2 separate regions of the Homo sapiens genome follow, and region 1 is linked to region 2. The links come from fine-mapping of genetic effects on gene expression. A gene starts in region 2. The other region holds a variant in brackets. All regions are shown on one strand. Distances are from middle to middle.

Region 1 (5,529 bases), 21 kb before region 2:
TCCGCCTCCCGGGTGCAAGCGATTCTCCTGCCTCAGCCTCCTGAGTAACTGGGATTACAGGTGCTAATCATGCCCAGCTAATTTTTGTATTTTTAGTAGAGACAGGGGTTCCACCATGTTGGCCAGGCTGACCTCCTCAAGCACTCCTGACCTCAAGCAGTCCGACCATCTCGGCCTCTCAAAGTGCTGGGATAAAGGCGTGAGCCACCACGCCCGGCCCATTTATTTTTCTTATTTAAACATTTTCTTCCTTTGACTTGTTTGCTTGTGTTTGTTCTCAGTTTTTAGAATCATTAAACATTTTGGCCATATAGAAAAATATACAGAAGCCTGGCCGGGCGTGGTGACTCACGCCTGTAATCCCAGCACTTTGGGAGGCCGAGGCGGGCGGATCAGGAGGTCAGGAGATCGAGACCATCCTGGCTAACACGGTGAAACCCTGTCTCTATTAAAAATACAAAAAATTAGCCGGGCGTGGTGGCGGGCTCCTGTAGTCCCAGCTACTCGGGAGGCTGAAGCAGGAGAATGGCGTGAACCCGGGAGGCGGAGCTTGCAGCGAGCCGAGATTGCGCCACCGCACTCCAGCTTGGGTGACAGAGTGAGACTCCGTCTCAAAAAAAAAAAAAAAAAAAAAAAAAAATACAGAAGGCTTTTATTTTATTTATCTTTACGACCTTTTCCCCTGTTGTTTAGGCACTTGTGTGAGCTCAAGAAACATCTAATGAATCAAAAGATAGTCCTTTGGTGCTTTAGAAATGTGGTTTTGAGATTAAGTCAAATCAATAAGTCTTTATTGAGCGTGTGTTAAGTACAATAGCACAGACCAAAGCGCAAAGAGATTCTGGGGATTTCGACTTATGAGTTAATTCAGGCTCCACTAGGGCAGAAGCTGTTGTTCACTTTTCTCCTTCTTGGGTGACAGGTGGGTCTGCATCACAGCTGCTCTGGAGGAAGAGCAGCCATCTCTTCCTGCTGTCACCATTGCCTTGGTAGGACTGGTGTGTGTATGGGTGTGTACTTGTCTTTCTTAACCTTTCACTTTTGAAGATCTTCCTTCTTCATCTTGTCCTGCCCTCTGGAAGGTGAGAAGTTGCTTGTGTTATCTCCATTTGTGTGCAGTCTAAAATGGCTACAGGGCATTCTAAGCAAAGGGGCTCGAGGAGGAGATGTTGGATATCTCAGGAGAAGACCCTGAAGAAATCCCTTCTCCCTAGAGGAAAAAAGTCGCGGGCAGCAATCGAGATGGCTCTACCGAATAAAGCAGTTTTTAGTCAACTTCTACCACCTAGTGGCCATTTCTGAGAGGCTCTTTTCCCCTTTATTTATTTTTAAAAGTATTTTGACATATGCAAAGACATTTGTATCTGTCAATCCATGTTTTCTTTAAAAATGTCAAGATCAAAATAACACAGTGTCACAAAGAGAAGTAATCATTGCAAGAACTAAAACCCAGAGATGCTTAAAGATGGTTCTTGGGCAACCACTTATATTTTAGTTTGTTCCCTTCAGTCCTATTTGAATTTTTAAAATTCTATTTGAATTTTTATTGTCACATGTGTATGATACTTTTATAATATATATTTTAAGTTTTTAAATTTATAAAGGTCTTTTTAATATATAAATAGAGCCGGGCAAGGTGGCTCATGCCTGTAATCCTAGCACTTTGGGAGGCCAAGGCTGGCAGATCACCTGAGGTCAGGAGTTCGAGACCAGCCTGGCCAACATGGTGAAACCCCATCTCTACTAAAAATACAAAAAATTAGCCAGGGATGGTGGTGCACGCCTGTAATCCCAGCTATTCGGGGGGCTGAAGCAGGAGAATTGCTTGAACTGGGGAGGCAGAGGTTGCAGTGAGCAGAGATCTCGCCACTGCACTCCAGCCTGGGCGACAAAGTGAGACTCAATCTAAAATATACATACACACACACACACACACACACACACACACGTTTTGAGGGGTGTTAATTTCTGGCAATTAGTGCAAAAGGTGTATTAAATATGAATGTGAAAAAAGTTTAAAAGGAAAAATTTTAAATGTTTGTTTTTCAGATAACCTTATATAACATGGGAAATAAACATTACTTAAAAATTTACTTCATTTGCTCCTACTTCACCAAATCAAATGGTTTCCATTTCTCAGGTTGTTTTCATTCATTGATCGATATGCAAACGTAGTTTTTCTCTCATATATAACAGTCCATCCAGATTTTCTGACATGGGATCAGAATCTTTAAATGCTTCATTATAGAAACATCACCATCTA[C/A]AAGGGGGCATGAGTGAAATCAGTAGAATTTTCTTTGCTTGAGATCTCTTTTGCCAGAAGGGCAAGTGGCTTTTGTCAAATGAATTGTGTTTTGATGAAACAGTGTAGCTGATACTCAGAAGCCTGGAGCAAACCTTCTGGTACAGGAGAGGGCCCTTCTGTTGTGTAAGTTTTGCAGTAGCACAGACTGCATTTTTAGCTCTGACACAGTCTTCGTGATTTTGGACAAAAACTAGACTTTCAGACTCGATTCCTTGGTGCATTAGTTTGCTAGGACTGCCATAGCAAAGTACCACAGACTGTGGCTTAAACAGCAGAAATGTATTGTCTCACAGTTCTGGAGGCTGGAAGTCTGAGATCAACGTGTTGGCTGGGTTGGTTTCCTATGAGACTGCTTCTCTTGGTTTGCAGGCAGCTGCTGTCTTGATGTGCCCTCACGTGGTCACCCCTCAGGGTGTGTCTGTGTCCTGTGTCTGTGGCCTCATCTCCTCTTCGTATACGAATATCAATCATATTAGATTAGGGTCCACCCTTAATGACCTCATTTTAACCCAATTGCCTCCTTAAAGATCCTATTTCTAAATACGGTCACATTCAGAAGCACTGGGGCTTAGGGCTTCAGCACTTGAATTTTGGAAGTCACAACTCAGCTCATAGTGCCTGGCTTGGGAATATGGCTAATAATTTCGCCTGGCAGAATTGTGCAGTTGTGAGGTCATGTTTAGAAAACTCCTGGTGTGATGCCAAGGTGCACAGTAGCTGCTCAATGAACAAGCTGTTATTCCTACTTCAGTTTGGATTTTGAATATCAGATTTCCTTAAAGTGAGGAGCCCCTATAACAGAATCCAGGGATTTTTAAAATATTGGATCAAAATGCCATTCAGTCAACTAGGACCTGACACTAATCTATCTCATTGCATCTTCTCTGGCCTTCATGCTGCACCAAGACACTGCACGTACTAAATGCTCCACTTTTAGGAATGCTTAATTGTCCTGTCTGGGTCCACTCACTCCAGTTACTCCAGCTCACCCTGGGAGGCAGTAAGCCATCCCAAGAACCATGGTTAGGACCATAGGTCCTGGAGTCCCCAAGATGTCCAGCTCCATTGCTTACATCCTAGACATAGGCATGGTATTTAACCTCTTTAAAGCTTCAGTTTCCCCATTTGTGAAATGGGGGTAATTGCATCACTACTAAATCTGTAGCATTCTTTTGAGAACTGAAAAAAATGGTCAAAGTAAAGCCCTTGGCATAATGGTAACAGACAATAGATAAGCTCTTAATTTTAAAAAATGTTTAAAAATTTTTTCGAGACAGGGTCTCACTCTGTCTCCTAGGCAGGAGTGCAGTGGTGCTATCACAGCTCACTGCAGCCTCGAACTCCTGGGCTCAAGTGATCCTCCCATCTCAGCCTCCCGAGTAGCTGGGACTACAGGTGCTGGCACCATACCTGGCTAGTTTCGTTGATTTTAATTTTTTGGCAGAGTCTCGTTATGTTGCCCAGGCTTGTCTCAAACTCCTGGGCTCAAGCGATCCTCCCGCCTCATCTTGGTTTCCTGAAATGCGGGGATTAAAATATAAACCACCGTGTCTGGCCGGTAAACTCATTACTGTTGGCTTTTATTATGATTTTTATTTGCCTCCCAGTACCTAGGTATTTAATTATAAGAGGAATGCCCTTTCAGAATCCCTGTCATAGTATTGCAGTTAGCAGGGCTAGCTCCACTGCATTCCTGAGAAGTGATGCTTGGGAGGCTGATATCTCTCCTGCATCCTGCTGCTGCCCTATAAAGGAGGAGGGCAGTGGGGCTCAACTCCCAGCCTGCACACCTCCTCCTCTTCCTTAGCTTGCTGATCTTTCTCTTAAGGGCTTTTTCCTCCCTCTGCCTACCCCGGTAATGACTACCCTCTTTTCCATTTTTTTTAAACTTTTATTTTAGGTTCAGGGTTACATGTAAAAGTTCGTTACATAGGTAAACTCATGTCACAGGGTTTTGTTGTACAGATTATTTGATCACCCAGGTATTAAGCCCAGTACCCAATAGTTATCTTTTCTGCTCCTCTCCCCCCACCCACCCTCCACCCTCAAGTAGACACCAGTGTCTGTTGTTTCCTTCTTTGTGTTCATAAGTTCTTGTCATTTAGCTCCTGCTTATAAGTGACAACATGTGGTATTTGGTTTTCTGTTCCTGTGTGACTTTACTAAGGACAATGACCTCTAGCTCCATCCATGTTCCTGCAAAAGACATGATCTTGTTCGTTTTTACGGCTGCTTAGTATTCCACGGTGTGTATGTACCACATTTGCTTTATTCAATCTGTCATTGATGGTCATTCAGGTTGATTCCATGTATTTGCTATTGTGAATAGTGTTGCAGTGAACATTCGCGTGCATGTGTCTTTATGGTAGAATGATTTATATTCCTCTGGGTATACACCCAGTAATGGGATTGCTGGGTCAAATGGTAGTTCTGCTTTTAGCTCTTTGAGGAATCGCCATACTTCTTTCCATAATGGTTGAACTAATTGACACTCCCACCAACAGTGTATAAATGTTCCCTTTTCTCTGCAGCCTAGCAGCATCTGTTATTTTCTGACTTTTTAATAATAACCATTCTAACTGGTGTGAGGTGGTATCTCACTGTGGTTTGAATTTGCATTTCTCTAATGATTAGTGGTATTGAGCTTTCTTTCATATGCTTGTTGGCCGCATGTATGTTTTCTTTTGAAAAGTGTCTGTTCATGTCCTTTGCCCACTTTTTAACGGGGTTGTTTGTTTTTCTCTTGCAAATTTAAGTTCCTTATAGATGCTGGATATTAGACCGTTGTCAGATGCATAGTTTGCCAGTATTTTTTCCCATTGTGTATGTTGTCTGTTTACTCTGTTGGTAGATTCTCTTGCTGTGCAGAAGCTCTTAAGTTTAATTAGATACCACTTGTCAATTTTTGCCTTTGTTGCGATTGCTTTTGGTGTCTTTGTCATGAAATCTTTGCTCATTCTTTTTTTTTTTTTTTTTTTTTTTTTTTTTTCAGACAAAGTCTCGCTCTATCGCCCAGGCTGGAGTGCAGTGGCACAATCTTGGCTCACTGCAACCTCCGCCTCCTGGGTTCAAGCAATTCTCCTGCCTCAGCCTCCAGAGAAGCTCAGACTACAGGCGCACACTGCCACACCCAGCTAATTTTTTGTATTTTAGTAGAGACGGGGTTTCACCATGTTGCCCAGGCTGGTCTCAAACTCCTGAGCTCAGGCAATCCACCTGCCTCA
Region 2 (5,000 bases):
TTTAGGCAGGGTCTCACTCTATTAGCCTGGTCTCACTCTATTAGGCTGGAGGGAAGTGGTGCAATCACTGCTCAGTGCAGCCTCGACCTCCTGAGCTAGAGTGATCCTCCTGCTTCAGCCTCCCAAGTAGCTGGGACTACAGGTACAGGCCACTGTGCTGGCTAATTAATTTTTTTTTTCTTTATAGAAAGGGTTTTGACAAGCAATGGGTAAAGAATTTCCTAAATGGTGATGGGATAACTGGCTAGTCATATGCAGAAGATTGAAACTGGACCTCTACCTTACAGTTTATACAAAGTTAACTAAAGATGTATTAAAGACTTAATTGTAAAACCCAAAACTATAAAATCCCTGCAAGACAACCTAGGCAATACCATTCAGGACATAGGCATGGGCAAAGATTTCACGACAAAGATGCCAAAAGCAAAAATTGACAACTGGGATCTAATTAAACTAAAGAGCTTCTGAACAGCAAAAGAAACTATCAACAGAGTAAACAGACAACCTACAGAATGGGAAAACAATTTTGCAAACTGTGATCTAACAAAGATCTAATATCCAGCATCTTATAAGGAACTTATATTTACAAGAAAAAACCAAACAACCCCATTAAAAAGTGAGCAAGGGACATGAACAGACACTTTTCAAAAGAAGACATATATGTGGACAACATTCATATAAAAAAAGCTCAACATCACTGATTATCAGATAAATGCAAATCAAAACCACAATGAAATACCACCTAACACCGGTCAGAATGGGTATTACTAAAAAGTCAAAAAATAACAGATGCTGGAGAAGTTGTGGAGAAAAAGGAACACTTTTACACTGTTGGTGGGAGTGTAAATTAGTTCAGCTATTGTGGAAGACAGTGTGGTGATTCCTCAAAGACCCAAAGACAGAAATATTGTTTGACCCAACAATCGTATGACTGGGTATACACCCAAAGGAATATAAATAATTCTATTATAAAGACACATGCACACACATGTTCACTGCAGCACTATTCACAACGGCAAATATATGGAATCAATCTAAATGCCCATCAATGATAGGCTGGATAAAAAAATATGGTACATATATACCATAGAATACTATGCAGCCATAAAAAAGAATGAGATCATGTCTTTTGCAGGGACATGGATGGAGCTGGAGGCCATTATTCTTAGCAAACTAACACAAGAACAGAAAACCAAACACTGCATGTTCTCACTTATAAGTGGGAGATAAATGATGAGAACACATGGACGCATAGAGGGGAACAGCACACACTGGTGCCTTTTGGAGGGCGGAGGGTAGGAGAAGGGCGAGGATCAAGAAAAACAACTAATGAGCACTAGGCTTAATACCTGGGTGACAAAATACTCTGTACAACAAACACCCATGACACAAGTTTACCTATGTAACAAACTGAACTTAAAAGTTAAAAAAAAAAAAGAGGTTCTTATTATGTTGCCCAGGCTGATCTCAAACTTCTGGACTCAAGTGAACTTCCACCTTGGCCTCCCAAAGTGCCTGGCCTTAGATATTCATACATTTATTTATTTTTAGAGATGTGGTGGGGGTGTGGGGGGTCTCTCTCTGTCACCTGGGCTGGAGTGCAGTGGCCCCATCATAGCTCACTGAAGCCTTGAACTCCTGGACTCAAGCAATCCTCCCACCTAAGCCTGCCGAGTAGCTGGGACTACAGGAGTGCACTACCATGCCGGGCAAACACACTGATTTTAAGTACAACTGTGTGCTTTCAGTCTTAAGATCTTCAGCTTTTGAAGGACCTCAGCCTTCCTCTAGTTCTAACTCCTCTCGTTCTAAGGAGATCCTTCCCATTCCTGCAGAACGTCTCCCCAACCCTTCTTCTTCACAGTTCTCCCTCCTATCCCTGAACCATTGCAAGAGGTTTTGTGCCAAGCCTCTGGCACATGGCACATTCTATCTCATGTTGTGATTTCGTTTTCTATGCACGTGCTCTCCTTCTAGCCTGGAGGTGAGCTGCTTAAGGGCAAAGAGCTCATGTGTAGCCCTTCCTTGTACCCATTGTCCTATAGCAGGTGCTACCTAGGGGGTGCTCCAGTAGCTTCCTTGAATGAACCAAAGAGAAGGGGTGAAGGGGGGAGTCAGTTGCCTAGGAGCTTGCATGGACTTCTGTGTCCTGGAACCAGCCCGGAGCTGCTGGAAGATGCTAGAAGTTGGAATCCTATCTCATTTCTAAACATCTGCTCCCACTCATCTCTTTCCAGGGTCATCAGTTATCCCCACTCCTCCCCCCCGCCCCCACTTTGTATAAATGAGCCCCTCACATCCCTCCATCTTCTCCATCACTGTGTGGTCACTTCTTAAATCATGCGTCTGGAAGGCGCCCTCCTGTACCCCATCCTGGAGGCTTCCTGCACTTCCCCTCTTGTTTCTTCCAGAAATGAGTCAGAGTGAAAGCAAACTTTCTGAGGTCCTGAGATCCCGGAGACAGGCTGTGAGGGCCGCTGGCCCCGCCCGCTCCAGCAGCGTGTGTGTGTATGTCTGTGTGTGTGTGTGTGCGCGCGCGCGCGCGCGTCAGGGGCCAATGCTGGAAAGGAAACAGCGGACTCGCTGAGGAGAAGAAAGGAGCCGCCCCCTTCGTCGCCAGCCCCCTCCCCACTTCCCGTCCAGCGCGCTGCTCCCTTCCCCCCGCCTCTGGCCTCGGGGAAGGAGCAGGAGGCAGCCCAGGCGGAGCGGGAGGAGCTGGCAGCGGGGCGCATGCCAGGCGGGGGTCCTCAGGGCGCCCCAGCCGCCGCCGGCGGCGGCGGCGTGAGCCACCGCGCAGGTAGGGGAGCTGCCACAGAGTCCTAGCACGTCCTGGGGGGGTCCTGGCAAGGAGGGCGCGCTCTGGCCCCCAGGAAGTCGCGTAGGTCAGGGCGTGCCTCTGTTAACAACCCCTTTCGAGGTGAGGGAAACTGAGGCAGGACGCGAGGCGTGCGAGGTTGAGAGAAGAGCGAGTCTTGGGCTGCCAGCCCGGCACCAGCGCCGAGCCGGGCCAGGTCCCTGACCCAGGACTGTGCAGCGATCCCCGGGACCCGCAGTTTGCGAAACTGTAGGAGTCTGACCCGCGCCCCCGCTGCGTGTCCAGGTGACCGGGAAAGGTTGCAGAGGCGTGCTTGGGGTTTGGATCCGTCCCCGTCCTGGGACACCTGCGCCGCCTGCACTCTCGTTGCGGTGCGCCCCAGCCTGCGCCCCCTCGGGACAGGGGACGTCCCGCCCGCCTTAACCCCAAGACCCAGCTGGATCTCGGGTTCCACCCCTTCGGGGACCTGGAGGGAGGAGGCTGGGAGCGGGACCAGGAACTGGTGCCTGTGCCTTCCCTAGGGGCTGCTCTGAAATCAGTGTCACCGCCCACTTCCTACTTGGCTACAGTAACGGGGATGGCCCAAGCCGGAGACTGCTCGGTTTCCACCGCCTGGAGCGCGGGTCTCGCTGTCAACTCTTAGTGATGATTGTGGATGGTTGTTTTTCAACAATGACAGGACTTCTACCTTCTCACTCTTAAAATGTGAGGTTTTCCAAAGACAGTGAGATTTGGAGTTAGGGAGTGCTGCCTTGTGTTCTTGCTGGGTGAGGACAGGGCTGGGTCAGTCGCTTAACCTCTCAGAGCCTCAGTCTCCTGAAATGTAAAGGAGAACACTCATAGCCTGGCCTCCATGTGTCGTTAGGTTTGTTGTATGGGAAATCAATTTGCAAAGTGTTATCATCAACTGGACAAATTTGAATTGGACAGCACTAGGACCATAGGAACTGGGGTTTGGAGACAGTCTGCCTGCATGTCAATCCTGGACATGCAGGAGACTATGACAGTACCTGCTTCATAGGGTTGTTATGCGGTTTAACTGTGATGGTGGAAGTGAAGCACCTCGCCCAATGCCTGAAATACCCAGTGCACTCTCAAAAAACCTTAGTTGCTATTTTTCCTAGGCAAAATCTAAATAATTGGGAGTAATGTGAGAATACCAGTTTGATTTGATTAATGCAGGAATAGTAGGGCATTTAAAAACACATGTAGTTCTCCTGTGCTCGGCATGGTACATGAAGTCCTCTGAGGTTCAGTTCTGTGCCACAGAGCAAAAAGAACCGTGGACAAGATACCCGCTTTTCGGGCTCTTTGACTTTGAGCCTGTTTTCTCATCTGTTTACAAAAAAGATAAAAGAAAAATGGGGGTAGTAATTACTGCCTTTTGTACTGATCGCATTGCCTGAGGATTAAATGAGGCAAAAGATCTGAAAGCACCTTGTGGAGTATGAGTCACTATGCACATATAAGACATGATAGTACTAGGAGGGAATGGTAACATCTGCAGGTTTTTAGAACTTACAATGTGCCAGACATTTTATTATGAATTCCTTTGATGAAATCCTCCCTGCATCTTTATGGGACTGGGATTACAGTCCTCATTTCCCTATGACAAAGCTGAGGTTCAGGGTCACCCTGCTTGGTTCCCAAGCTCACAGAGCTCTTAAGTGTAAAGCCAGGATTAGAACCCTGGTGTGGGTGCCACTCACAACTGTGTTCTTGGCCGCTTGCCAAACTGAACTTATAGAGTGGAGCTGTGATTCAGAACAGACCTATATTAGAATTTAGGTAATTTTTTTTTCTTTAGGAGACAGAGTCTTGCTCTGTCACCCAGGATGGAGTGCAGTGGCACAATCATGGCTCACTGTAGCCTTGAACTCCTGGGCTCAAGAGATCCTCCTGTTCCAGCTTTTTGAGTAGTTGGGATTACAGGCGCATGCCACCATGCCCAGCTAATTTTTTTTTTTAGAGTTGGAGTCTTGCTATGTTGCTCAGGCTGGTCTCGACCTCCTGGCTTCAATCATTCCTCCCACTTTGGCCTCCCAAAGCGCTAGGATTACAGGCATGAGCCACCAGGCCCAACCTCCATCCTGCATATCTATAGACCCAAAATGTAAGAGTGAACTGTTAATCCTGGCAAAAGAGGCTTTGGCATAATTTTAATTTCCCTCAGACTTATTTTATA

What was found. PIP is the estimated chance that this variant, and not a neighbour inherited with it, causes the effect.
Region 1: its variant is fine-mapped to the expression of DISC1 in whole blood (TOPMed, PIP 0.98).

What each region holds. Positions count from the first base shown.
Region 1 is chr1:231,602,906-231,608,434 of GRCh38, forward strand. The region is part of intron 4 of TSNAX-DISC1 (TSNAX-DISC1 readthrough (NMD candidate)); the gene reads left to right. All of the region lies in intron 1 of LINC00582 (long intergenic non-protein coding RNA 582), which reads right to left. Among named protein-coding and RNA genes, the nearest start is that of LINC00582, 6.4 kb to the right of the region's middle. The variant C/A (reference allele first, on the strand shown) is at 2,264.
Region 2 is chr1:231,624,138-231,629,137 of GRCh38, forward strand. It overlaps DISC1 (DISC1 scaffold protein), which reads left to right and starts at 2,653. Exons shown (of 13, transcript NM_018662.3): 1 at 2,653-2,797. The coding sequence starts at 2,731. All of the region lies in intron 5 of TSNAX-DISC1 (TSNAX-DISC1 readthrough (NMD candidate)), which reads left to right. RefSeq lists silencers at 2,549-2,808, 3,139-3,198, 4,172-4,372.